Homo sapiens: one gene and its partners. The protein of the gene in region 1 purifies or fractionates together with the protein of each later gene. This does not show direct contact. Each region holds a gene or a part of one and is shown in the gene's direction. Other genes may lie near its edges.

The links.
Region 2: the proteins of CUL9 (region 1) and SH3BP4 purify together in Homo sapiens (affinity purification with mass spectrometry; 2 studies listed by BioGRID and IntAct, with this or other methods). This does not show direct contact.
Region 3: the proteins of CUL9 (region 1) and HADHA purify together in Homo sapiens (affinity purification with mass spectrometry; 2 studies listed by BioGRID and IntAct, with this or other methods). This does not show direct contact.
Region 4: the proteins of CUL9 (region 1) and GLMN purify together in Homo sapiens (affinity purification with mass spectrometry; 4 studies listed by BioGRID and IntAct, with this or other methods). This does not show direct contact.

What each region holds. Positions count from the first base shown.
Region 1 is NC_000006.12:43,220,167-43,225,089, forward strand, and holds the end of CUL9 (cullin-9), read left to right. Parts: intron 1-292; coding exon 293-433; intron 434-580; coding exon 581-745; intron 746-991; coding exon 992-1,155; intron 1,156-1,518; coding exon 1,519-1,612; intron 1,613-2,126; coding exon of another isoform or gene 2,127-2,149; coding exon 2,150-2,224; intron 2,225-2,364; coding exon 2,365-2,475; intron 2,476-2,612; coding exon 2,613-2,730; intron 2,731-3,097; coding exon 3,098-3,231; intron 3,232-3,928; coding exon 3,929-4,002; intron 4,003-4,083; coding exon 4,084-4,279; 3' UTR 4,280-4,421; downstream 4,422-4,923. UniProt on the Homo sapiens protein: Core component of a Cul9-RING ubiquitin-protein ligase complex composed of CUL9 and RBX1. The CUL9-RBX1 complex mediates ubiquitination and subsequent degradation of BIRC5 and is required to maintain microtubule dynamics and genome integrity.
Region 2 is NC_000002.12:235,046,007-235,053,037, forward strand, and holds part of SH3BP4 (SH3 domain-binding protein 4), read left to right. Parts: intron 1-6,555; coding exon 6,556-6,744; intron 6,745-7,031. UniProt on the Homo sapiens protein: May function in transferrin receptor internalization at the plasma membrane through a cargo-specific control of clathrin-mediated endocytosis.
Region 3 is NC_000002.12:26,199,616-26,206,646, reverse strand, and holds part of HADHA (trifunctional enzyme subunit alpha, mitochondrial precursor), read left to right. Parts: intron 1-2,342; exon of another isoform or gene 2,343-2,450; coding exon 2,451-2,585; exon of another isoform or gene 2,586-4,327; coding exon of another isoform or gene 4,328-4,414; intron 4,415-5,326; coding exon 5,327-5,498; intron 5,499-7,031. UniProt on the Homo sapiens protein: Mitochondrial trifunctional enzyme catalyzes the last three of the four reactions of the mitochondrial beta-oxidation pathway.
Region 4 is NC_000001.11:92,260,960-92,267,990, reverse strand, and holds part of GLMN (glomulin), read left to right. Parts: coding exon 1-78; intron 79-1,249; coding exon 1,250-1,291; intron 1,292-1,397; coding exon of another isoform or gene 1,398-1,451; intron 1,452-1,498; coding exon 1,499-1,572; intron 1,573-3,352; coding exon 3,353-3,437; intron 3,438-4,258; coding exon 4,259-4,368; intron 4,369-5,064; coding exon 5,065-5,128; intron 5,129-7,031.

The sequences.
Region 1 (4,923 bases):
CTCCTTTTTCTTAATTATTTTTACCCATTCCCTCCTTGTCCATCCCAACAGTAATTATGATTAGGCAAATACACAGCCCACCCCATCCTCAAAGACAACTGTAATTTGGGCCAGTCTCAGCAAAGCTGGAGAGAGGAGTCAGCATTGGTTGATCTAGAGGCAGGCTTGTTTCTGGCCTTCCACGTTGTAGTGGAGGGGAAGGGAAGGAGGGACGCTAGCTTAGTTACCAGGACACTCCCCCTGTGCTGCTCCCACACTGTCTGTGAGCAGCCCCTCCTTTTGTCCCTCCCAGTCTTGCTGGAATGAGTACCTGACAACTCGGATCGAGCAGAACCTTGTTTTGAATTGCACCTGCCCCATTGCCGACTGCCCCGCCCAGCCCACCGGAGCCTTCATTCGTGCCATCGTCTCCTCGCCAGAGGTCATCTCCAAGGTATCCCCTCTCGTCTGAGAGAGGCTCCAGTGCAGAGCCAAAGGAGTGTGCCCCAGGGAGTGGGCTGAGCTATGGGGTGCTGGGGGCCTGGAGGTGTGGCATCCTGGAGAGCCATACCCTCACCTCGTGGCACCTGCGTCTCCACAGTATGAGAAGGCGCTCCTGCGTGGCTATGTGGAGAGCTGCTCCAACCTGACCTGGTGCACCAACCCCCAGGGCTGCGACCGCATCCTGTGCCGCCAGGGCCTGGGCTGTGGGACCACCTGCTCCAAGTGTGGCTGGGCCTCTTGCTTCAACTGTAGCTTCCCTGAGGTGGGAGCCCCACACTGGCCCTGACCCTGAGCAAGGATTCACACTCCTTCCCTGCTTAATATCCCCACCCCGCCACACACACAGACTGTGACTTGTCCTTCCTCAGCCTCTGCCACCCAGTTGAGCTCTGTTCCTCTTCCTGGAGCCCTCCAAATGTGATCTGTGCCTGCTCCCCTCTCTCCTGTGCACACCAGCCATGCTGCCCTCACGGCTCAGCTGTGTCCCCACCATGCCCTCTTGCCTTAGGCACACTACCCTGCTAGCTGTGGCCATATGTCTCAGTGGGTCGACGACGGTGGCTACTATGACGGCATGAGCGTGGAGGCGCAGAGCAAGCACCTGGCCAAGCTCATCTCCAAGCGCTGTCCCAGCTGTCAGGCTCCCATCGAGAAGAACGAGGGGTGCCTGCAGTAAGAAGGGGGGTACTGTGGGGAGCCAGAGGGCAAGGAGGGGGGAGGAGGCCTGGCAGAAGGAGGGGGGAACGGGCTTAGTGTAAAGCTCAGCAAAAGAGGGTGGTTCCTCAGCCGCCCCTCACGTGGCAGCCTCCACGGTGACTTCCTGGATCTTAATGTTCCTTCTCCCACTCGTAAGTCCACACTGACTGGGGGAGTTCAAAAGCAGAGGTGCATTCAGCAGGGCTGGGTATGACTAAGGAGACTATCAGGGCAGGAGCAGAGGCCACAGCATCAACAGCGGTACATCTGGGCCCTTGGCATTCCTGGCACACCCCTGCCCAGAGGCAGGAGTCCCTGACCAGCCAGCTTCCTCCATAGCATGACCTGTGCCAAATGTAACCATGGATTCTGCTGGCGCTGCCTCAAGTCCTGGAAGCCAAATCACAAAGACTATTACAACTGCTCTGCCATGGTAAGGCGCTGGGCACTAGGGGAGGGCAGAGGCCCAGAGCCGTCGGGGAGGGGTGCTGCTACCAGGTCCTGGGCAGACAGGGCTCCTTGTGCAGTGCAGCATTCTAGCTGTTGGGATAGAGGCTCACTGTGGGGAAGACAGAGCCACCTGGGCCTGCAGATGCTGGAAAGTCTGTTCACAGGGACCTTCAGCTCCAGAACAGGACTTCTCATACCGAGGTGGCTACAGAAAGGCTGGGGAGGGCTGGGCACTCTCAGAAGGCAGCAGGGCAGAGCAGGAAAGAGCAGGGACCCTGCATTTAGAGCCTGGCTCTGCTGCTTAGCATGTGGCTTTGAGCAAGTTCATTTACTTCTCCAAGCCTCAACAGCCTCTGCAAAAGGGGTGAATAATATGACCTACTCCACACAGTCATGAGGACTGAATGAAGATAATCGGGGGAGGTGTAGAAAGGCCTCCGTGAATGTTGGCTTTTCCACTTATTAACTCCCTCCTGTCCAAACAAAACACCCAATAGCCCTCCCAACGTATCCTTGCTAGGTAAGCAAGGCAGCTCGCCAGGAGAAGCGGTTTCAGGACTATAATGAGAGGTGCACTTTCCATCACCAGGCGCGGGTGAGTCGGGAGGAAACAGCGGGTAGATGCCTGCAGAAGCAGGTTGGGGTGGTGGGGTGGAGGGGGGTGGGCTGAAGGTCTGACCGGGCAGGTGGTGCTGCGCCACCTGTGCTGGTACTGATACACCTTCCTCCACACAGGAGTTTGCTGTGAACTTGCGGAACCGGGTGTCTGCCATCCATGAAGTGCCCCCGCCCAGATCCTTCACCTTCCTCAATGATGCCTGCCAGGGACTGGAGCAGGCTCGGAAGGTGGTAGCGGGTGGGGGAAGAGAGCAGGGGAGGGGTGTGCCAAATGGGTCTGGGGGGCTTGGCTGCTTTCATCGGACTTGCCTGGGTGAAGGGAATGAGGAGAGGGCAGGCGGGAGAGCTGATGGGAGCCCCTGCAGGTGCTGGCCTACGCCTGCGTGTACAGCTTCTACAGCCAGGACGCAGAGTACATGGATGTGGTGGAGCAGCAGACAGAGAACCTGGAGCTGCACACCAATGCCCTGCAGATCCTCCTGGGTGAGCCACCCCTGCCAGCCAGGCCCTCCTCCTGCCTCCTCCCCTCTGTTGCACAGCCCGGCCCCTCCCAGACAGGTCAAGCGGCACCCTTACCTTCCCTCTCTCCTCTTCCTCTTCATTCTTCATGGCCTTCTCACTGCCTGGCTGTTAAAGCTCAGGTCGAAAGCCTACATTGTAAGGTGCCCAAGGGCGCAGATGTTCGTGGATGTTTCTTGGTTTCTGGTCTTTACCCTGCTCCCCTAGGGAGCTTCATGAGAATGTCTAGAGCTGCACCTGGTGCTTGGTAGACGTTCCATAGGTGTTTGTTGGAGGAAGGAATGGATGAGAATGAGAAGGGAGGGAGCCTCTGTGCCTGCCCCCTCTGCAGAGGAAACCCTGCTGCGGTGCAGAGACCTGGCCTCCTCCCTGCGCCTCCTGCGGGCCGACTGCCTCAGCACGGGCATGGAGCTGCTCCGGCGGATCCAGGAGAGGCTGCTTGCCATCCTGCAGCATTCTGCCCAGGTACTGCCCGGCCCAGACCCCTTCTGCTCCTGCATTCTGCGGGAGTTGAGGTCCTCCTGTCCCAGCACAGCCCCTGCCCTGGGGCGAGTCCAGAAGGAAAGGCAGCAAAGCGGGTGAATGGATGTTAGACCTGGGCGCACATCCCGGCTTTTGGGCCAACCTGCCTGATGCTGCTGGACCCTATCACTTCACCTCCTGGGGATTCCTACAAAATAAAGGGGTTGGCTAGCCCACATCAAGGGTATTTGGTCAGGTGCCTATCAGAATCACTTGGGGAACTTTTCCAGACTGTACTTCCCAGATAGGGATTTGAAATCCTAAGAGTGGGCATCAGGGGATTGGGGTCACTGGAGCAAGGGCTCTCCCAGGCTCTCTCCAGCTCTAATGCACTGATGCTGAGTCTAAACTGTGAGTCCTGTCCTCAGGTTGCTTACTGACTGGTAAGTCACATGGGCAGAAAAGACATAGATTCTGTAAGCTCTTTAAGCACAGGGTCGTGTGCCTCACCTGGTACCCCGTATCCCTGGAGACCATCTGTGGGTGAACTCACAAAGGCAGTGTTTCATGAAGTGCTGTGCTGGGAGGGGAGCAGTCCTAGCAGGAGCTTGGCCCTCCCAGAGCATCAGTGGAAGGAATGCTGGGTCCAAAGGCCCCATGCCCTCTACCTCCTTCTCAAATCCTTCTGTCTGCTCACCAGGATTTCCGGGTTGGTCTTCAGAGTCCATCAGTAGAGGCCTGGGAGGCAAAAGGACCCAACATGCCTGGCAGTCAGTAAGTGGGGTGGGCAGAGCCATGGAGGAGGCAGTGGGACATGGCAGCCTCCTCTGGGCTGAGTGTGGTGGCTCTCCCTAGGCCCCAGGCCTCCTCAGGGCCAGAGGCAGAAGAGGAGGAGGAAGACGATGAGGATGATGTGCCCGAGTGGCAGCAGGATGAGTTTGATGAGGAGCTGGACAATGACAGCTTCTCCTACGATGAGTCTGAGAACCTGGACCAAGAGACTTTCTTCTTTGGTGATGAGGAAGAGGATGAAGATGAGGCCTATGACTGAGGGGGCAGATGCAGGAAACACCTAGAGCAGCCCCAGAGTCACGGGGCTGAGGGGGCGGGAGCTGCCCCTGTCATAGGGAGGGGGATTCCCAGCGTCTGTAGTGCTTCCTGTTTGCTGAATAAAGGTCTCTTTCTCACACACATCTCTGGGAGCAGGCTGACAGCTTCACCAGGGGCCAGCCAAGTTGCCACTGCCCTGGCCTCATATCTACCCACACCCCTCATCTTTATGTTTCCTTTAGACCTCCGGACTCTTCTATCCTCCGAGAAGGCTCAGAGCAGATTCATTTGACTTAAGCTGATAAAGGGAAGTGAAGGTTGGCATGGAAAGGGCCACGTGCAGCCCCAGCCCAGTTCAGAGGAGACAGAGAGAGGGATGGCCACCCACAGGAGCAACCATCCTCCCAACTCTTTTTTTTTTTCTGAGATGGAGTTTCACTTTTGTCCCCCAGGCTGGAGTGCAATGGTGTGATCTCGGCTCACTGCAACCTCTGCCTGATGGGTTCAAGCGATTCTCCTGCCTCAGCCTCCTGAGTAGCTGGGATTACAGGCATGCACCACCATGCCCAGCTAATTTTTATATTTTTAGTAGAGACAGGGTTTCCCACATTGGCCAGGCTGGTCTCGAACTCCTGAGCTCAGGTG
Region 2 (7,031 bases), on another chromosome or scaffold:
CTGCCCCACAAAGTCGTGTAAGATCTGGCCCTACCCATCCCAACCCTGGGGGCCACTGTGCTCTGTGCACCCCTGCCCTGAACACACCCAGCTCGCCCGGCCTCCAGCTCCTGCAGATGCTATGCTGTTCCTCTTCCTGGAGCTCCCTTTCCCAGACCTCCTCATCTCCCTCAGCTGCCAGCTCAAATGCCGTCTCTCCAGGACGTCCTTCTCTGCAGCCCCGCGCACTCCATCATCCTCTGTCTCCATGGTGTTTCTTGAATCAGAAGCGGTTTGTTTTGGCCAGGCATGGAGGTTCACACCTGTAATACCAGCACTTTGGGAGGCTGAGACAGGAGAATCGCTTGAGCCCGGGAATTCAAGACCAGCCTGAGCAACATAGTGAGGCTTCATCTCTCCAATTTTTTTTTTTTAAATCAGCCAGGTGTGTTGGTGTGCACCTGTAGTCCCAGCTACTTGGGAGGCTGAGGTGGGAGGATCACTTGAGCCCAGGAGGTCGAGGCTACACTGAGCTATGATCGCAGCACTGCACTCCAGCCTGGACAACAGAGTGAAACCCTGTCTTGAAAATAAAGGAAGAGAAGAAAAGAAACAAGTTTGTTTATGTTCTTGTGCACTTGTTTCTCATTATTACTCTAACTGAACATAGGTCCCATGAGAGGAAGGGCCCCGGCACATAAGAATCACTGAGGTACTAGATGGATAAGTGATTGAATGAATGAATGATGGATGAATGAATGAATGATGAATGAATGAATGAATGAATGCAGGCCTTGGGCTGGGCTAAGAATCCAAGCGGGAGGCATTCTCACGTGGCCATACCATGCTTCTGTTCTGTGGTTCCATTTCCTCTTTCCATTCTTTTTGTGCCTGTTTTTGATAGAGTCCGTGTGTGAGGCATCCCCGTACCTCTGCCTGCCCCTTCCCAGCAGCATGGCTGTGGCTGCACTCAGAGCACCCCTCTGTCCTGGCCACTTCTCTCCCACCAGAGCCTCTGTCCGTGATGGTGTCAGCTGAAGAATGACAAGGTTTGTTCATTTGGAAAGGAGAGCCTCATTCCTCATAAAGGGTTGCAGCCTGTGGGTGGCTATTCTGACAGGTTGGGAAGCAGAGCCTCCTGCCAGAAGCCAAAAACAGACACTTCAAGGGAGGGGCAAAGGCAACAAGAATTTATGGATATTGGTGGCCAAATATACATATTCAATAAGCCGTAGGGGGAGTCATGAGTATTTATGAAAGGAGAAATGTGCACATTCACATTTAAGCCTTGTGCTCCTTCAGGGGTCCCATGTACAAAAAATGGTGGCAGTGGCATGATTCAAGGGTAGGGTTTTCTTTCAGCCCCCTGATGCGTCAGAGGCGAAGCAGGGGACATGAAACCCTCGCTGTGCATCCTCTGTAGACTGGCCAGAAACACTGCGTGGTCGGTGGGCTCCCGTCAGGCAAAGAGGAGGGGCAGCGTCTGGCAGTGGTAGAGGCCTTTGAAAGGGAACCCAGCTTTTTAAGAATCAGAAAAGTCATTCAGCAGCGCCCTTTTGATGCAAGAGACTATTCCCAATTCTCGGGATACTGTCAGCACTCGGCACATGGTCTCTGTTATGGTGGGGAAGGAAGGGGAGTCAGCTGGAGATAGCCGTGGGCAGTGGCCATCAGCCATGGGAGCAGAAGCAGCCCACGGTGGCCTCAGGCCCAGGGAGAACTTCCTAAGGGGCCAGAGTGAGCTGTCACAACTGGTCCTGGATCCACCATAAGAACGAAGCCGTGGGGTGTGGTGACCTGGAGCCGTCGGTGATGGCTGTAGCAGGGGCGTTTTGGTCAAGTTGCGGGAGGTAGGGAAATAGGCGTGTCGGGCTCTGTAGAGAAGTTTCTATGAGAAAGGGAAGGAGTTGCTGTGGGATGCAAAGCAAGGGAGGGTGGTTGTTTTGGGAGTGGAGTGGGGGCCGGAATAAACCCAAAGAGACTTGAAAACTAACAGAAATAAGGAAGCTAGCAAGTGCATGGGGCGCATTGGGGCGGGAAAGACTGGTGTGGTGTGAAGGGACTCTCTGTGGATTGGGAGAAGACCCACTTTAACCTCCAGAAGAGGAGGAGTTGATGGACAGTGTGCATTGGATGGGGTCCTGAGGGATTCCTCCCAGGCAGCCCCAAAGCCAGAGCCTGTGGCTGTTAATGTGGGAGAGGGAAGGAGGATGGGCCCATTGTCCAGATGCCATGTGCAGAAGGCTTCCCCTCGAGTTTTGGGGCATGTTGGGAAGGAAGCAGGATGGAATAAACATGCAGCAAAAAAGCCTAAATTGTATTTCTTTGTACTTTATAAGAGTATTTTCCCCCGCCCCTTTTTTGAGAAAAGGTCTCGCTCTGTCTCCTAGGCGGGAGTGCAGTGGTGTGATCACAGCTCACTGCAGCCTCGAACTCCTGGGCTCAAGCAGTCCTCCCACCTCAGCCTCCCAAGTAGCTGGGACTACAAGCAGGTGCCACCACACCCAGCTAATTTTTTTTTTTTTTTGTCTGTAGTAGAGACAAGGTTTGATTGTGTTGCCCAGGCCGGTGTGGAACTCATTGAGCTCAAGCTATCCTCCCACCTCAGCCTACCAAAATGCTGGTATTATAGGGGTGAGCCACCATGGCTGGACAAGAATATCTCTTGAAGCAAGTTCCCAGACTCTGGCCGCCAGGCCCGCTATTCCTGTCAATGGCGTTTTGTTGGAACTCAGCCACACCCATTCCCATCTGCATCGTCTGTGGCTTTCAGGCTTCGTGTGTCCCACAAAGGCAAAAGTACTATCTGTCCCTTTATAAAGTTCAGTCACCCTGACTGAAATCATGGTGTACTCACTGTAACAAAATTCCAGTTGAAACCAGGGTAGTGCAGCAGTCCATCGAGTGTTTCCTGGTGTACCTGTGTGCCCATAAAAAGAGGAAGCTGCAAGGATCAAGTTCATAGAGCTAGAGCCTCCTGCTGTGAAATTTTTCTATTGCTAAGAATTGGTTGGCACCCAAAATTTGTCCTTTAAAAATATGCATCAGTTATGCCTTGTTGATGGTGTGGGTGGTTTGTAACAAACTAAACCAGGGCTGGGCTCAGTAAAAGTTGTGTAAGTGAGTGAGGGAGAGATGCCTTCATTCTTGGTGTTGGAAGTGCCGACCTCTCCTTTCATCTGGGATCCATGGAAATGGGACCTTGGCTGCCCCTGGATGGAGTCCAGGCGCTCTCCTTCCCAGGGGCCAGAGAACACCTGTGTTTCCCAGGACCTTGGGGACCTGTGCCCAGTTCCCCTGGGGAGAGAGCGGTTTTGATCACTCGCACCAGGAATGACTCGAGTCAGAAGCAGGTGACTTTGACCTGTTCTGTTACCTAGAAAATGAGGCCACTTTGGAGCCAGGCAGCTGTGCACACAGCCAGATTAGCTTGGTGTGTGCTGAGTAGCCACGAAAGAGCTGAGTTGGGGACATTGAGTGACTTCGTGTCAAACCCTGTGGTGGTCCAGCACACCTTCCCAGGACCACAGACGAGGCTGCCACCACAGCAAGAAAATTAGGATCTGACAGCCTACCAGCTAACTACACACCCTCCTGACACGTGAATACACACGTGTATGCTTTTATCTTCTGAAACAAATCTAGTCAACATTTAATTTTTTAAAACAATTTGTTTTGAATATATCCAAATTCAAATAGAAACAGACCTTCTTCTGAAATATATAAATAGTTGATATGAAGCATAATCCAGACCGGTATTACATTTGGTTCAATTCCCAATTCCATGTGGGGCTCATGGAATTGGGAAGGCCGCTGGCCGAGTGCTGAGAAGTTTGCATATTTGCCTCCACGCCTGTCACTTCCAGCTGTGGGACCCGGGACAAGCCTGGGGTCTGCAGGCTTCCTGTGCTTATCTGTAGAACAGATGCCTTGCGGCCCACACAGCAGGGAGGACCTGGGGTTGGGTGCCCAGAGGCAGCTCTGGCTCTGGCATTTCTCGGTGTGAAACCCACTTCCCCTCTCTCAGCTTCTTCTGTAAAGTGGGTTGAACTCAGCCTCTGCTTCATGGGGGGCTCTGGGGAGCGGAGGAGCTGAGTGTCTGGCTCACAGCAAGCCCTGGGTTTCTTTTTTTTTCTTTTCTTTTTTTTGAGACGGAGTCTCGCTCTGTCCCCTAGGCTGGAGTGCAGTGGCGCGATCTCAGCTCACTACAAGCTCCGCCTCCCGGGTTCACGCCATTCTCCTGCCTCAGCCTCCTGAGTAGCTGGGACTACAGGTGCCCGCCACCACACCCGGCTAATTTTTTTTGTACTTTTAGTAGAGACAGGGTTTCACTGTGTTAGCCAGGATGGTCTCGATCTCCTGACCTCGTGATCCACCTGCCTCAGCCTCCCAAAGTGCTGGGATTACAGGCGTGAGCCACCGCTCCTGGCCTAGCCCTGGGTTTCTAGTAGCTTCTACAAAAACAAACGGCCACCAGGTCCTCAAACCCCCTTCTGGCCAGCCTCGTTGGTAGCCAGCTGTCAGCCTCTCATATCTAGGGAGGCATCAGAATGATCTGTCGCTCCTGGTTCTTTTTAAATTCCATGGATTGAGATGCTGGGGGCCCACCTAGAAGGATCGTGAGTCACCTACTCTGGCTAATGCATGCCACAAGTCGCCAAAAAGGTCACCTTTTTGTATTGTTAGACTCCCCCCAGGTAAACATAAAGTGTACATTAGAATGCTCAGTCTAAAACAGCTGGGCTCGCTTTGAAGTAAGCAGCCCAGCCGACCGCATGAGCACTAGCAAGACGACCCTGCTATCGGCACAAAATAGTTGGCCAAAGAGCGCCGGTACCAGCGGTGTGGTTGGCGGGGGTGGGGGGTTGTTTGTTTTTTAGCACACTTTGGAGTCCTAAAATGACAACCTCAGGTGCTGAAACAGAGCGTAGAGAGAAAGAACGCCAGGACTGGTGACTTTCCTCTTCTCTTAGCAACTCGCCTGTCCAGGGGCTCACGGGAGCCTCAGAAACCGTCTCTGGGCTGCCTCAGGCCACTGTGCCCTGGAAGCCAAGCCTTTCCCATTGTTGGATGAGAGAAAGCTTTAAGGGTGGGGGTGAGCTGTGCCTTCTATGGCAGAGGAGACTCAGACAAGAATCAGACCCAGCATGCGGCTCTCCTGCCTTCCTGGTGACGTCATCCTGACTGGCTCAGAGCCACACGCTAACCATGTGTGGCCTCATTTATAATTAGGATGGCGCCAGAGTCGCTTGCATGACACCCAGTGGCAGTCATGTGACTTGGCACAGTGTACAGGACTAGCAGGCCTGCTGTCTTGTGCTAGCCAATTTGATTTGTTTCTTTAAACCAGAAGTGTGAGTTTGACCCCAGCCTGGGGTCCCCCAGATATATTAGCCATATGTTCAATGCCTGTCCCATCCAGCCCCCGTTTTTAGGAGGGAATTGAGTCCCAAGGCGGCCACGTGGTTGTTCCAGCCTCAGCTGGGACTTCACTGTCCCAGCAGGGCTGTCTGTCCTATTACCTCCCCTCTGACTTCCTCTGTGGTTAGTAATCCCTGTCCTAAAGACACAGTAGAAAGTTCTTGCAGCTTTGACGTGGGAGCAGTCCCACCAATTGTGGAAACCGTTTTCTCATGTTGCACAGTCCTGGGGGAGGTCTGTGCATCTCCTGGTCACCGTGGTTCTTGGTGGTACACCCTGTCTCTGACCAGGGCCTCTTCTGTTCTCTGTCTTCTTCTCCCTGGGTGGTCCCTGCCTGAGTCCCCCAGCCTTCTACCCGCGGTGCTCTCTAACTGGCCAATGTCAGCACCGCACACTCAGCAGGTCCAGCTCGCCCTCCATCCGTCTCGGCCTCAGGCTATGGTGTCTATTTGGTGAAATGCATTCGTTTCTCTCTGGTGTCCCCAGAGAGTGGGAGTGGTGACAACTCTAATCCATATTCACCCTGTCTGTTAGCTTCCTGGGGCTGCCAAGACAAATGACCACAAACCAAGGGACATCAAACAACAGACACCTGTCCTGTCACCATTCAGGAGGCCACAGGTCTCAGTCAGGGGTCCCAGGGTGGCCTCCGTCTGGAAGCAGTGGGGGAGAAGGGGTTGCAGGCCTGCCTCTCCTAAGCCCCACTGGCTCAACCCTCCTTCTTTTCCTTGGCTTGTTGCCGCATCTGTCCCGTCTCTGCCTCCGTCTTCACACGGCCTTCTTCTCTCTGCCTCTCTGTCTGCTTTCTCTTCTTATGAAGACGCCAGTCCTTGGTGACTTCCTCTAATCCAGAGGGACCTCATCTTAATTCTATCTGCAAAGACCCCATTTTCAAGTAAGGTCACGTTCTGAGGTTCTGGGTGGATGTGGGCTTTGGAGGGAGACACTGGTGAACCTGGCACGCTCTGCACATCATCTCTTTTCTCCCGTGAATCCTGGCAGTGATCGATTTCAGGGGACATTTGGTAGTAGGCCAGGGAACATGGAGAATAGAGAGCCCATGGCCATTCCTGCGCCGTCTGCTGGAATTCTGCGGGGAGCAGAGCCTGCCCCACTCCCTACACTGTCTCACGCTGTGTGCCTCTTCCTCTGCAGGCCCTACTGAAGATGGACTGCCAGGGCCTGGTGGTCAGACTCATCCAGGACTTTGTGCTCCTGACCACGGCTGTAGAGGTGGCCCAGCGCTGGCGGGAGCTGGCTGAGAAGCTGGCCAAGGTCTCCAAGCAGCAGATGGACGCCTACGAGTCTCCCCACCGGGACAGGAACGGGGTTGTGGACAGCGAGGTGAGCAGCGGCTGAGCTTCGAGCTCACCGAGCCCCTCTGTCCCTGGGTTCCGTGGACCCATGCAGTGCAGCCATAAAAAGTCTTGCCTCGCGGCATTTCTGTGAGGGTGCAACAGGTGGAAATGTGCACGCATGTGCCCAGCACTGGGTGTGCCTCACTGAGTGGGAGCCATCCTCCGGATTGGTTGTCGTGAGCCCTGGCTTTAGGATGTCAAGGCTGTTCCACACGACATGGGAAGGACAAACAGAACTGCCTGTCCCTTGTTCATTTTGATCTTAAATTACCA
Region 3 (7,031 bases), on another chromosome or scaffold:
TGCAGTTCTTGGTTTTAACAAAACCAAAGAACCCCCCCAAAAGTAGGACAAAGTATACTTCCGTGAACCATGCATGAACTAATTTTTTGTACATCCTAACTGATACTTTAAAATTTTTGGCCAGGTGTGGTGGCTTACGCCTGTAATCCCAGCACTTTGGGATTCCGAGGTGCGTGGATCACCTGAGGTCAGGAGTTCGAGACCAGCCTGGCCAACATGGTGAAACCCCATCTCTACTAAAAATACAAAAATTAGCTGGGTGTGGTGGTGGGCACCTGTAATCCCAGCTCCTCGGGAGTCTGAGACAGGAGGATCGTTTGAACCTGGGAGGCAGAGGTTGCAATGAGCTGAGATCGCACCGTTGTACTCCACCCTGGGCGGCAAGAGTGAAACTCCATCTTAAAAAAAAAAAAAAAAAAATTGCCAGTCTGATGCATCTCATTTTAATTTGCATTGCCCCAGTTATTAGGGAAATTGAACATCTTTTTATTATTATTATTATTTTCATAATAGAGATGAGGTCTCACTGTGTTGCCCAGGCTGGTTTCAAACTCCTGAGCTCAAGCGATCCTCCCTCCTAGGCCTCCCAAAGTGTTAGGATTACAGGCATGAGCTACCGTGCCTGGCTGAAATTGAGCATCTTTACTGACAATTTGTTTTGTTCTTTTATGAATTGCTTTATATCCCTTGCCCATTTTATTTCGTTGTCTTTTTAAATTGATATATGCATGTTCTGTTTTTCCAGTAGTATCCTTTGTCTGCTGTATATGTCACAAATTCTTCCCATTCTATGGTTGTCTTAATTTTGTGGGTTCATTTGTCAAACAGAATTTTTTTTTTTAAAAAAAATGGAGTCTCACTCTGTCACCTAGGCTGGAATGCAGTGGCACAATCAGCTCACTGCAACCTCCGCCTCCCAGGTTGAAGCAATTTTCCTGCCTCAGCCTCTTGAGTAGCTGGGATTACAGGTGCACACCACCAAACCCAGCTAATTTTTTTATTTTTGTATTTTGGTGAGGTTGGTCTTGAACTCCTGACCTTGTGATCTGCCCGCCTTGGCCTCTCAAAGAAAGAGCTGGGATTACAGGCGTAAGCCACTGTGCCCAGCCAAAACAGAAATTTTTAATTTTGATGTAGCAAATGTATCAGTCTTTTTTTTCAGTCCCTATTTTTTGTTTCTCTACTGTATTTTCTCATTGTCCTGCAATTACTTATCACTCACCATATAAATATTTGTACCATTACAAAGCTGCATTTAGAAGATGCTCCTAGGACTTGAAGTTAGATTTCCTTTTCAGGACTTTAGTATGATTTTTGAACATTACAATCAGAATGGTTAAGAATGAAACTTTATCCCTCATTTCAACTCTAATTTGGATAACAGTGCTGTAAACTTGGGCTTCTTTTATGAAGAGATTCTTTAAAAATTTTTCTTAGTTATTTACTATGGGAATATGGCAAATTATTCCAGAACTATAGGGAACTAAAATGAATAAGCAGATATGATCTCTGGTCCTCAAAAGGCTTAGAATTTAATTGAGGAGACAAATAATGGACACGAAGCCATTCCAGGATACTCTGGGGTAAATCAAGTCGTCCTGAGAAGTTCTAGAGGAATTCAGGGGCAAAAAAAGGTAGCAATGTGCATATGTGGAAGTGTTTAAGGAAGGGATAAGGTCTGGAAGCAAAGAGACCATGGAGGAGACTTTGAATTCATCCAGACGAGGAGTGATAAAGGCACAGATTTTGGGGGAAATGAAAGATTACACGATGGCTCACACCTGTAATCCCATCTCTTTGGGAGGCTGATGTGGGAGGATCATTTGAGGCCAGGCCAGGAGTTCGAGACCAGCCTGGGCATCATAGTGAGACCCTATCTACAAAAAAACTTAAAAATTAGCCAGGAGTGGTGATATGCACCTTTAGTCCGAGCTACTCAGGAGACTGAGGCAGAAGGATCACTTGTACCCAGGAGTTCAAGGCTGCAGTAAACCTAGGATTGCACCACTGCACTCCAGCCTGGGTAAGGGAGCAAAACCATGTCTCTCAAAAAAAGAAAGAAAGATGACTGGCAGATAGTCAAAATCACTAACAAATAAGTTGTTCAATAAGAAAAGAGGTTGGTCTTTTTGTTCGAAAAACAAAAATACTCATGTTGACTTAAATGTAAACTGGTTGTTTTGATTTCAGTGATTTCGAAGCATGATTGAAGATTAGTATAATTCTGTCTTCTTGGGTAGACCAGTTCTTTTAGACCTGGTGGGTTTTTGCACTTAACTTTTAAGATCAATCATTTATTAAAGCTGTGTTTTTAATAAATAAAAATTATTTGAAACACCTTATAGTTGTGCCTGCATTAGTTGGTTTATTGAATAACTTAGGCAATCTTCCACTTTGACTGAAATGATTAAGATCAGTTTACCGAAAGTCATTTCATCCTTGCCTTGCAGGCATCTGGCTATTCTTGGTGCAGGGCTGATGGGAGCAGGCATCGCCCAAGTCTCCGTGGATAAGGGGCTAAAGACTATACTTAAAGATGCCACCCTCACTGCGCTAGACCGAGGACAGCAACAAGTGTTCAAAGGGTAAGCCTGCTCTCTCTCTTTGCAAGAGTTAGAATGTCCTTTGTTTCTTGGTTAGTTGTTTTTTGTGGTGGCTTGGTGGGTTTTTTTGTTTGTTTGTTCTTGCCATCACGGATTCCTTTTTCCTGAACATAATGAGTTCTAGATACTCCGTAGTGAAGCCAAGTTTCTTTTGATTTTTAGAAATGCCAATTCCTTCTTTGACTTCGTTTTGTTATAGATATCATAGACAATTAACATCCTTGGAGTCTGTAGTCTTTGAATGCAGAAGGGAAAATCTTATCTAGTAGATACTTGTTAATGCCATTTTACACTTTCGTATCAGGCCTGCGGATTTTGATATAGTTTGCAGGTAATTGCTCTATTGTTAAGGATTATTCAAACAGCATGACTGTCTCTGTTGAGAAGACTGAGTGAGGTTAGGATGTAAGGAAATGGGCAGTAACTGCAGGGGGAAGGCAGGGCCGGGATCAGGACTCTTCAGACTTTTATTTCCTGACTGGCATTACAGAGAGAAGCCATGAACTGATCCCTCCACAGTGTCTGGGGCTTTACAGACTATCTCCATCTTACCTCTGAATTAATAAAGGGGGAATATTATTCCCCTTCCTCACCACCTGCCTCTCTCACCATCACACACATGCTGCCTGTTTTGCAGAGGGGAAGGTGGAGCAGCAGCTTGGCCAAATGGAGGGTTGGTTTGATCAGTTTTCTGCTCACATTTAATGGACAAGCTGGCTGCACTTAAAGCATCCTGCATGTGACTTTTAGCTGAGTGAGCTTTTTTGTTTCTTAAATGGATTAGATAGCTTAAGCATGTTGTTATCCCTTTTCTGCAGAGAAGCTCACATATTGCTGCCATAATGCTAACCAGGACCTGGCAGGTTTCATCGTGTTGGCAGATTATTGTAAGATAACAAGTTGTAGTAGAAGATTCTGACCAAAAAAATGATGTGTGCTAGATAGCAGCAGTGCCCTGAAACTAGCATGCAAGCATCCCAAACAGCATTCCATACCATCACCAAAGTAAGAAATTGTTGCTCTAAAATAGTTTCCTCCCCCAGTCTCTCTTGAATAGTGTCCTGGGTTCCCCTTTTCGTCTTAGAAACATCAGGTTCTGGCGAGTGCCGCTCACCACACTGCTGACTTGGGACAATAGTTCCTGTCCTCTCTTGGGAATAGTTTAATCAGGCATTAGAATTAGAGCAACTGATAATGTTTTGAATGCTGACAAGTATCTTGTTTGCTGACTGCTGTCATGATTGTCAAAAACAAAAGCTTTGAGCCCATACTTTTAAGACCTTATTTGATGTTTTTGTTTCTTTTGAGACAGTCTCACTCTATTACCGAGGCTAGAGCACAATGGTGCAATCTTGGCTCACTGCAACCTCTGCCTCCCGGGTTCAAGCGATTCTCATGCCTCAGCCTCACGAATAGCTGAGACTACAGGCATGCGCCACCATGCACAGCTGATTTTTGTTTTTCTTATAGAGACGGGATTTCACCATGTTGGTTAGGCTTGTCTTGAACTCCTGGCCTCAAGTGATCCGCCTGCTGCAGCCTCCCAAAGTGCTGGGATTACAGATGTGAGCCACCATGCCCAGCCCTTAAGACCTTCTTTGAATACTCCTTTGTATTTATCTTGTGGCCTTAATTTTGCTTTTGGTTAAGGAAATTAGTGAATGGGGTTTAGCTTCATTCTTCATTTAGAGGAAAACTGTAGGTAATTTATTCTGAAAGTGTGGTCAGACGGAATCTAAGAGAACCTGTTTCCCTTGGCGACGAAAAATAATCAGTTGAATGTCTGAATAACAGGAATCCTTTTCTGCTCCCTATGGGAAAAAAGAAACCTTGAGTTAATATTTTATGTAATCAGTGCAATGTGCTACTAGGTAATGAGTGGGAAGTAGATGGAGAATATAGGAAATAATGCTTGGTCTCTGTTCTTTAGAAGATTACAACCACAGGCTGGGCGCGGTGGCTCACGCCTATAATCCCAACACTTTGGGAGGCTGAGGCGGATGGAACACGAGGTCAGGAGTTCAAGACCAGCCTGGCCAAGATGGTGAAACCCCATCTCTACTAAAAAAAAAAAAAAAAAAATTAGCCAGGCGTGGTGGTGGGCGCCTGTAATCCCAGCTACTCAGGAGGCTGAGGCAGAGAATTGCTTGAACCCAGGAGACAAGAGGTTGCAGTGAGCTGAGATCACGCCACTGCACTCCAGCCTGGGCAACAGAGCGAGACTCCGTCTCAAAAAATAAATAAAAAAAAAAAAAGATTACAACTACAGAATAACATAAAATTATATATTTGCGATAAGCAAATATAAACCATGTGGTCTCAGACACACTTTGGCTGCTTCCCCTGTCATAGGTAGAGAATTACCAGAACTCCTCTTTTGTTTTGCCATTCTAGTATTCATGTTATTTACTCCTCTTGGCAAATTTAACTGGTTTAAGAGTGATTTAGTTTACGTAAATTGGGCATTTGGAGGCATTCTATGGTAGAAAGAATGTGTACTTGGGAGTTAACATGTCTTTGAATGCTAGCACCCTCCCTTATCAAGCTATTTGACCACAGGTCCCTCTAAGACTAAACAACTTGAAAGTCTCCCTCAAAATGGGAGTAATAGAATAACTACCTCACAGAGTTGGTGAAAAACACAGGTGTGCTCTGGCCCATGGACATTCAATAAACGTTAGTTTCCTTTTCTTCCCATCTAACTAGGAATGTGTTTTTTCTAGATTGAATGACAAAGTGAAGAAGAAAGCTCTAACATCATTTGAAAGGGATTCCATCTTCAGCAACTTGACTGGGCAGCTTGATTACCAAGGTTTTGAAAAGGCCGACATGGTGATTGAAGCTGTGTTTGAGGACCTTAGTCTTAAGCACAGAGTGCTAAAGGAAGTAGAAGCGGTAAGCAAGGGGCTGTTGTACTTGAATCCTAGTGTAGTGAACAGAAAACACAGAGATTTTTTTTTTAAAGGAGCTATAGGAAACTCATGATTGCTTTTATAAAAAGGACTATTCAAAGGCTGGGCATGGTGGCTCACGCCTATAATCCCAGTAGTTTGGGAGGCTGAGGTGGGCGGATCACGAGGTAAGGAGTTCGAGACCAGACTGGCCGATATGATGAAACCCCATCTCTACTAGAAAATACAAAAATTAGCCGGGCATGGTGGCACACACCTGTAGTCCCAGCTATTTGGGAGGCTGAAGCAGGAGAATCACTGGAACCTGGGAGGCAGAGGTTGCAGTGAGCCGAGATCACGCCACTGCACTCCAGTCTGGGTGACAGAGCGAGACTCCATCTCCAAAAAAAAAAAAAAGACTTTTTGTTATCAAACGTTAAGTTTTTATGTGTGCTCATGCACACTGCATATGTTATAAAGGTCAAATCTAAATTCTAAAGGAAGAAAATGAGGGTGCGTTCACCTTATTCATGTAGGAGCTCTGTCACCCAAACATACAGATAACCTCACAGAGTATAGCCAGATGCTTTGAGATTTTTTGGTTAGCCGAAAGCCAAAAACAAACCTCTTCAGGTCTAAGGCTGCAAAGGAAATAGGGAAGACAGTTCGTCCAGATGCTTGTTCTGTGGAAATGCTGCTTTGGCCCAGCTCCCAAATGTTCTCCATAGGCACTTCTTGAGATGGGCTGACATGAACAAAACAAGTACTTGAAGTGGGGAGTAGGAAGAGTAAGCCCCGAGAAGGAGTAATAGCAGTAATTCAGGGATGAGGTAGGACCAAGGCCTAAGCTAGTCTACAGTTGGATAAACAGAATGTGGGTTACTGAAAGGTGAACATGAAATGATTCTGACTTGGCAACATGCTGGATATAATGAGCAGTGAGCTCATTACAAAAAATAAGAGTACCACAGAGCAAAACTCCGTCTCAAAATAAATAAATAAACAAACAAACAAACATTATCTTCTCTTATTGCCCATAGAGCTAACAAAACCCATTCCTTGGACAATCTTCCACAGGCATGATCTCTAGACCACCCCGTTTCGGTTGTCCTCTCTAGTATCTTCCTCATGTCTCCGTGTTCTACTGCTGTGTTTACAACTATCTTTTCACAATTCTGCAATCTGGGCAGGGCTCTGCAGAGACAGTGGTGCTTAAGTCCATTGATTTCAAGGCTGGGGTCACTCCTGGGCTGCATTCCGCAGGAAGCTCGGTTGGGGCACCTCACTGCTTCCCCCACATCTCTCATAGTCCATCCTCACTTAGTCGTCTCACCACAACTTCTTTGTAGCGTGGCTGCAGGCTTCCAAGAGAACAAAAGCAGAAGCTACTGAGCTTCCTAAGTTTATTGTCAGGAAGAAAAAAAGATAAATAATTTAAAAAATAAAAAAAGAGGCTACCGGGCCCCACAGGTCTAGGTAGGCCTGGAACTGGCAGGGTAACTTCTGCTGCATTGTGTTGATAAAAACAAGTCACAAG
Region 4 (7,031 bases), on another chromosome or scaffold:
AATAGTTTATTGAGAATAGAAGACAATAGTCTACTTTACCAGTACTTAGAAATCAAGAGTTTTCTTACTGTACCTCAGGTAAATAAAATATGTATTCTAATATTGAAAATAGCCCTTTGCCTGTTCTGAACTTAAAGTAAGGTCTTTTCTGATTCCTTTCCCACTCTTTTCTCTGCAACCTTTGAAAACTCTGGTGTAATGCTGTCCAGTAGAACTTTGACAATATGAAAGCCACTAGCCAAACTGAACACTTGAAATGTGACTAAGGAACTATTTTTTTTTTTTTTGAGGTGTAGTCTTGCTGTGTCGCCCAGGTTGGAGTGCAGTGGTGCTATCTCAGCTCACTGCAAGCTCCACCTCCTGGGTTCATTCCATTCTCCTGCCTCAGCCTCCCGAGTAGCTGGGACTACAGGCGCCCGCCACCACACCCAGCTAATATTTTTGTATTTATAGTAGAGACGGAGTTTCACTGTGTTAGCCAGGATGGTCTCGATCTCCTGACTTCGTGATCAGCCTGCCTCAGCCCCCCAAAGTGCTGGGATTACAGGTGTGAGCCACCACACCCAGCCGGAACTAAGTTTCAAATTTAAATTTTAATTTATTTAAACACGAATAGCTATTAGAGGCCACCATTATTGATAGCACAGCATCCAGTAGAAAAGCATAACTTTCTTCTTTTAACACTTTATTTCTGTAGGGATCTTGGAAAATGAAGCTTCTTTATGTTTCTCATAACTCAAGTTCTCAGGACTCCATCTAAGGCATCCACTGACTCATTACCAGAAAGACTAATACACATTGTGTTTTTCCCTCCTATGGTTTATTTTGCCCAATCCTCTTTGTTAGTTATGATATCCAAGGAAATCCTTAGATTTCAGTGTGGGAACTGGTTTTCCTAATATTTAAATAGAAAAACATGGTTTTTGTTAACATATTGTTTGATTGTTTTTAATTAATAAATTATATTTCTGTAGATTTGATTTCATTTTCTTGCCACTGTAGACATAATTGAAAATTATCGTTTGCTTTTAAAAGTACACTGTGTGACACTCTACTCAATATCACTTAAAAAATCAATTGTAGTTAGCTTTCTGGAATGGAAGGCTTAGGGAAAAATTAATTTACTTCACTTTTAAATCTCCTACCCTCACTTCTCTGAATTTTTAGTATCCTATTGATGTATTATAGTTGTTTGTTTGCAGTCAGTATAATCTGTTTACATCTGAATTTTACATTTTTTTATTTCCAGGGCTTAGTGAAAGTAATGACACTTTGCCCCATTGAGACACTGGTATGTAAATATTTGGTGACTAAAGAATAATGAGTTACAGTGAGAAAATTTGACAAATAATTTAATTTTCTTTTTAAAAATTTTAATTTGTGAAATTTTTATTTAGGAGGTACAAGTGTGGATGTATTACATGCATAAAATGGATAGTGATGAAGTCTGGGTAAGCTTTATTCATTTTATATAATAATATTGTTTGTTCCATTTTAGAGGAAAAAGAGTTTAGCTATGCTTCAGCTGTATATTAACAAGTTGGATTCACAAGGCAAATATACATTATTTAGGTATGTATCAAGCATGGCTAATTGCTAAGTGTGTGGTTGATTAAAAGTCATGTTAATGCCATGTAATTGTTTTAGGGCATAGTATGTCGGTATGTTTTACATGTAATTCAACTCTGGTTGGAACCCATATTATAAATTCTCAGTGATGGCTAGAGAAAGGGTTAATCAAATATTTCAGACATACTATATATATGTCTATATTTTGTATGACTAATAGTATATATTGCAGTTCAATCAATTGGAATACTCTAAATTTGAAATAGACTTAAAAATAATTAAACTGAGATTGATGATGCTCCTGCTGGAACTTTATGTATGTCACTAATCTCCATTACTCACAGTTCAAATTGATGGCTCTGGAATTACAACTTTGATAGGCTATGCACTATGTTAATAGTAAGAGCTTACTAATACTGCTCTTTGAGGTGGATAAGATTCTAGCAACTCTCTAAGTTAAAGATTGGTAAACTTTCTAATTAATTTTCTGTGAAGAGCCAAATAGTAAATATAGGTTTTATGGGCTATACAGTCTCTGTTGCAAGTGCTCAACTTTGACTTTGTATTGGGGATGGGTGTGTTCCAGTAAAACTTTATTGATAAAATTGGGCATCAGGCTGGATTTGCTAAAATGTCTTACCTGGGATTGGCCAATATTAGTACTGTTCTTTTTTGGCGGGTGCAGCAGTGTGATCATGGCTCACTGCAGCCTTCACCCTTGGCCCCCCAGCTTCAGGTGATCCTCCCGCTTCAGCCTCCCAGGTAGCTGGGACTACAGGTGCATGCCATCATGCCCAGCTAATTTTTTTGTGGAGATGGGGTTTTGCCATGTTGCCCAGGCTGGTCTCAAACTCCTGGGCTCAAGCGATTCACCCACCTCAGCCTCCCAAAGTGTTGAGATGACACGCATGAGCCATCATGCCCAGCCAACACTCTTGATTCTATCTTTTCTTGTTTTCTATTGATAGTAAGAGCAAGTTTATGAAATCTCAATTCTTAGGTATTATACCGGCTTTCCTGTTCTGTTCTATGTGTATCTCTACCAATAAATCCCCTTTTTTTCTTAAGCTAGTCATATCTAGTTTTTTTTTTTTTTTTGCAATTAAGCTACTCTAGCACTGGACTACTTTCACAGGAAATAATTTGGGGATTTTTTAGACCATTATGTTAGTGCCCTTTCTTGCCATGTTAAATTATTGTAACTATGTTCATAAAAATATTCAAATTTTGGTTTGATAGAAATGGCTTGTTGGAAGATCCAGTTATAAATAAGTATTTACCGGCCGGGTGTGGTGGCTCATGCCTGTAATCCCAGCACTTTGGGAGGCTGAGGCAGGCGGATCACGAGGTCAGGAGTTTGAGACAAGCCTGGCCAACATGGTGAAACCCTGTTTCTACTACAAATACAAAAAATTAGCCAGGCACGGTGGCGGGCGCCTGTAATCACAGCTACTCAGGAGGCTGAGGCAGGAGAATCGCTTGAACCCGGGAGGCGGAGGTTGCAGTGAGCCAAAATTGTGCCACTGCACTCCAGCCTGGGCGACAGGGCGAGACTCTGTCTAAAAAAGTAAAATAAAATAAATAAGAATTTACCATTTAGTGAGAGCAATAACTATTACAGGTGACTTTGTAATTGGTTGATGACCTTGCTAATTACCATTACTGTGGGGTTTTTATTCCTAGAAGTAACACATGGCCTCTTTGAATTTGTAAAACTTTTATCACCATTTAATTCTAATGCTGTCCAGGATAATTTCACATCTATTGTAATTTTGCTTTCAAGGTGCTTATTGAATACAAGTAATCACTCAGGTGTGGAGGCTTTTATTATTCAAAATATCAAAAATCAAATTGACATGTCATTAAAGGTAAGAACATAGCCAAAGTGTCAATTACCAATTTATTTCGTAGGGTATATTTATTCATATGTAGAATACATTAATGTGAGTTATTGCTCTATCTCTAGTATTACTATTACTTAAATATTATTAAGGCATATTTTTTCCCCTATTTCTACTATGTTTTAAAAACTCTGAATTTGGAAATTTAGTTAACTATAAGTTTAAATTGTATTCTTTGAGGTTTTGGTTTTTGTTTTTGTTTTTTTTGAGACAGGGTTTCACGCCTGTCACCCAGCTTGGAGTGCAGTGGCATGATCTCAGCTCACTGCAGCCTCCACCTCCTGGGCTCAAGCAGTTCTCCCAACTCAGCCTCCCGAGTAATTGGGACTACAGGTGTCCACCAGTGCGCCTGGCTGAATTTTGATTTTGTAGAGATGGAGTTTCACTGTGTTGCCCAGGCTCGTCTTGAACTCCTGATCTCAAGTGATCCACCCACCTTGGCCTCCCAAAATGCTGGGATTACAGGTGTGAGTCATCACTCTGGGCCTCTTTGAGCTGATATTGTGGCTTATTTTTGCTTTGTTATATGCTTCTCAAAAATGAATGGAAACTTAAGTCTCTTCTGTTTCTGAGTGCTCAGTAATTCTAAATGGAAAACAGAGTGACCAGTGTTCTCAAACTGGCAGGGTTCGTTCCTGGTGTCTGGAAAGTGAATGAAAGTACGGAAATTAAAGTTAAAAACTGTATTTTAAATGTGCAATTCTTCATTTTTGTAGTGTCAAGGTATTAGAAAAACACATGAATTACATGAATTATAAAGCTTTCTCAATTTTTCGTTTGCTTTTCAGAGAACACGTAACAACAAATGGTTTACAGGACCACAGTTGATTTCCCTTCTTGATTTGGTACTTTTTCTCCCAGAGGGTGCAGAAACAGATTTACTGCAAAACTCAGATAGGTGAGGTGACCATTACCAAAGTTCACATAGTAAATTCAGAATAAAATGTGAAACATCTGCTTAGGGAACCTAAAGTAATAAAATGTCTTTTCCTGTGATTTTATGATCTATGGCTAATTCATTAAGTTACATAAAGATTTTTCATATTTAAGTGATTTGATAATGTGTAGAAACAAAATTAAAACCTCCTCTTTCTAGATGAATGACCAGCACTATGATTTGATAGCTTTTATGTACCCAGCATTCCATAGAAATTTGCAATGACAGCACTTGTGACTTAAAACTAAAAATCTGTGTATGTAATTTATGTGTTTAGGTTTTGTTGTTTTATTGTTTTCCAGGTCATTTTTTTTTTCATATAGAACATATAATTTCAGTTTCAGTATACTGGAATGGATATTGAGAAATGGTTTAAAGCATTTAAAAAGTAATCTTAAAATTCAGAAAGCAAGAGATGATGCTCTCAAATATTAAAGATAACAAGGCTTTCTTTAAACAAGGATGATAATTTTCACAATTGTATGATTTAAACAAATGGAAAACAGTGATAAGTTATTACTACTCAAAAAGATATTAATGGAAATAGTTTCTATTGGCAAACCTAATTATAAAAATATGACCAAAGTTTTAGCTTATTGAGATTGCTGTTGACTATATAAAACCATACTGTAAGTAACATATATTTTTAATTAACAGGATTATGGCTTCATTAAATTTATTGAGGTATTTGGTTATCAAAGATAATGAAAATGACAATCAAGTAAGTGAAGTATTTGAAAAGAAACTGTGAGTATATTCAAAAGGCATAAGGAATGTTTCAGATATTCAGTACCTAAAGCCAATATTTAATATCTTACCCAGATATAAAGGCCGGGAAGAGTGCCAACAATTATTCTGAAACCTGAAGTTAATTCCCAGGAGCATTTACCACCCCACATCCAGCTTTCCTTTCCCTTTCCATTTCCTATTGTACGTCTGCTTTCTTGCTGAAAGCACTTAGTCCTGTTGGGTGGATAAGTTGCAGGTCCTAAGTCAACTAACCTTGTGGAGCTCAACGTACATATGGTGTCTTGTTCAGTTTCCTCCACCTATAGCTCATGAGCTGTATAAAATCATCTGATATTTTAATATTGCCTCATCAGACATGACAAATTGAAGCATTTTCAGCACTAAAACAGAATTTGTTAACAGCACCTTTTAGATATGTTTAGGAAGTTGGATTTTTTAAAAATAGCACATCATTAGAAGTATTCAATAAATAGAGAAGTATTCAATAAATAGAAAACTATTTGAGGGAGATTTGTCATACAGTAAAATTATATTTGCTTTTTATCTTCTCTTTCTACCCTGTTCTGATCATTGCTTTCCCTATATGTGTCACCTCTATTAGCTAGAACTACCTGAATCATGTGTTGTTAATTGGTTTTTTTTTAGTAATTCATTTTTATATAAAGATGCCAAAGAAAATTTTTTTTAAATTAGGTAAATCGTGATTTGGGATGAAGGTTTATGAGAAAAGTAGCAGTCTCTTTCCTTCCTGACAGATCTATAGTAGATTCAGTGATTTGAACCCCCGTTCATCCCTCTTCAGCTGAAAATAGCTATTTGCCATCATTGACTAGTGCTTACTCTGTATCAGGTGCTATTTTTTTTTAACATTTTGTTGTGAAACTTTTCAAATGTACAGCAAAGTTGAAAGAATTTTATAGTGATCATTGGTTTACCCACCACCTAGAGTCTATGATTCTACTGTACTAACTTCATCATGTATCTATCACTCCACCCTCTGTCTATCACTCCGTCAGTCTATTTTTTGATGTATTTCAAAGTAAACTGCAGACGTCAGCATACTTTCTCCGAAATATTTCAGCATGTATTTCATTACATTGATTAAATATTTGTCTGTAGTTTTTCTTTGAAGTAAAATTTACATAATGAAATGTTCAAATTTTAAGTGTATATTCACTGAATTTTAACTAATACATAGATCTATATTACTCAAACCCATATCAATATAGAACATTTCCAGCATCACAAGAGGTTCCTCATACCCCTTCCTAGTTAATTCTGACCTCGTTGTGCTACTCACCCCTGCCAGGGACAACCACTATTCTGCCCAAGTGCTGTATATCATTCATTCTTCAGAGAGCGTCTCGTTCTCTTGCCCAGGCTGGATTACAGTGGTACAATCATGGCTCACTGCAGCCTCGACCTCCTGGGCTCAAGAGATCCTCCCACCTCGGCCTCCCAAAGTGCTGGGGTAACTTCCAGGCATGGGCCACCATGGAAAACCAAGAAAAGTACTCTTTATTTTTCACTTTTCATAGATAATGTAGGTGAAAAAAGTTCATTAACTTGCACAAGGGCAAACATCTGGAAAGTGGTAGAAATAGCTATGACCCCAGGCAGTGGCCAGAACTTTCTAAATCACAAACTAAATCCTGATTCCTGAAGGAGCTTGTGATAAAAATTGAAAAGCTACAATATAAAATTCAGCAGCAGTAGAGGCCCTGAGACTTCAGGAAGGTGGCCTTAGGGTAGGGTATGAGTTTTTATTTTTTTAGTAATCAAGAAAGGCTGTACCTACTTGAGAGATTATCTGACTTGCCTGACAAAAAGAAAAGGAATCTTGTTGATTAGGATTGATAGGTGTGTTAGATATG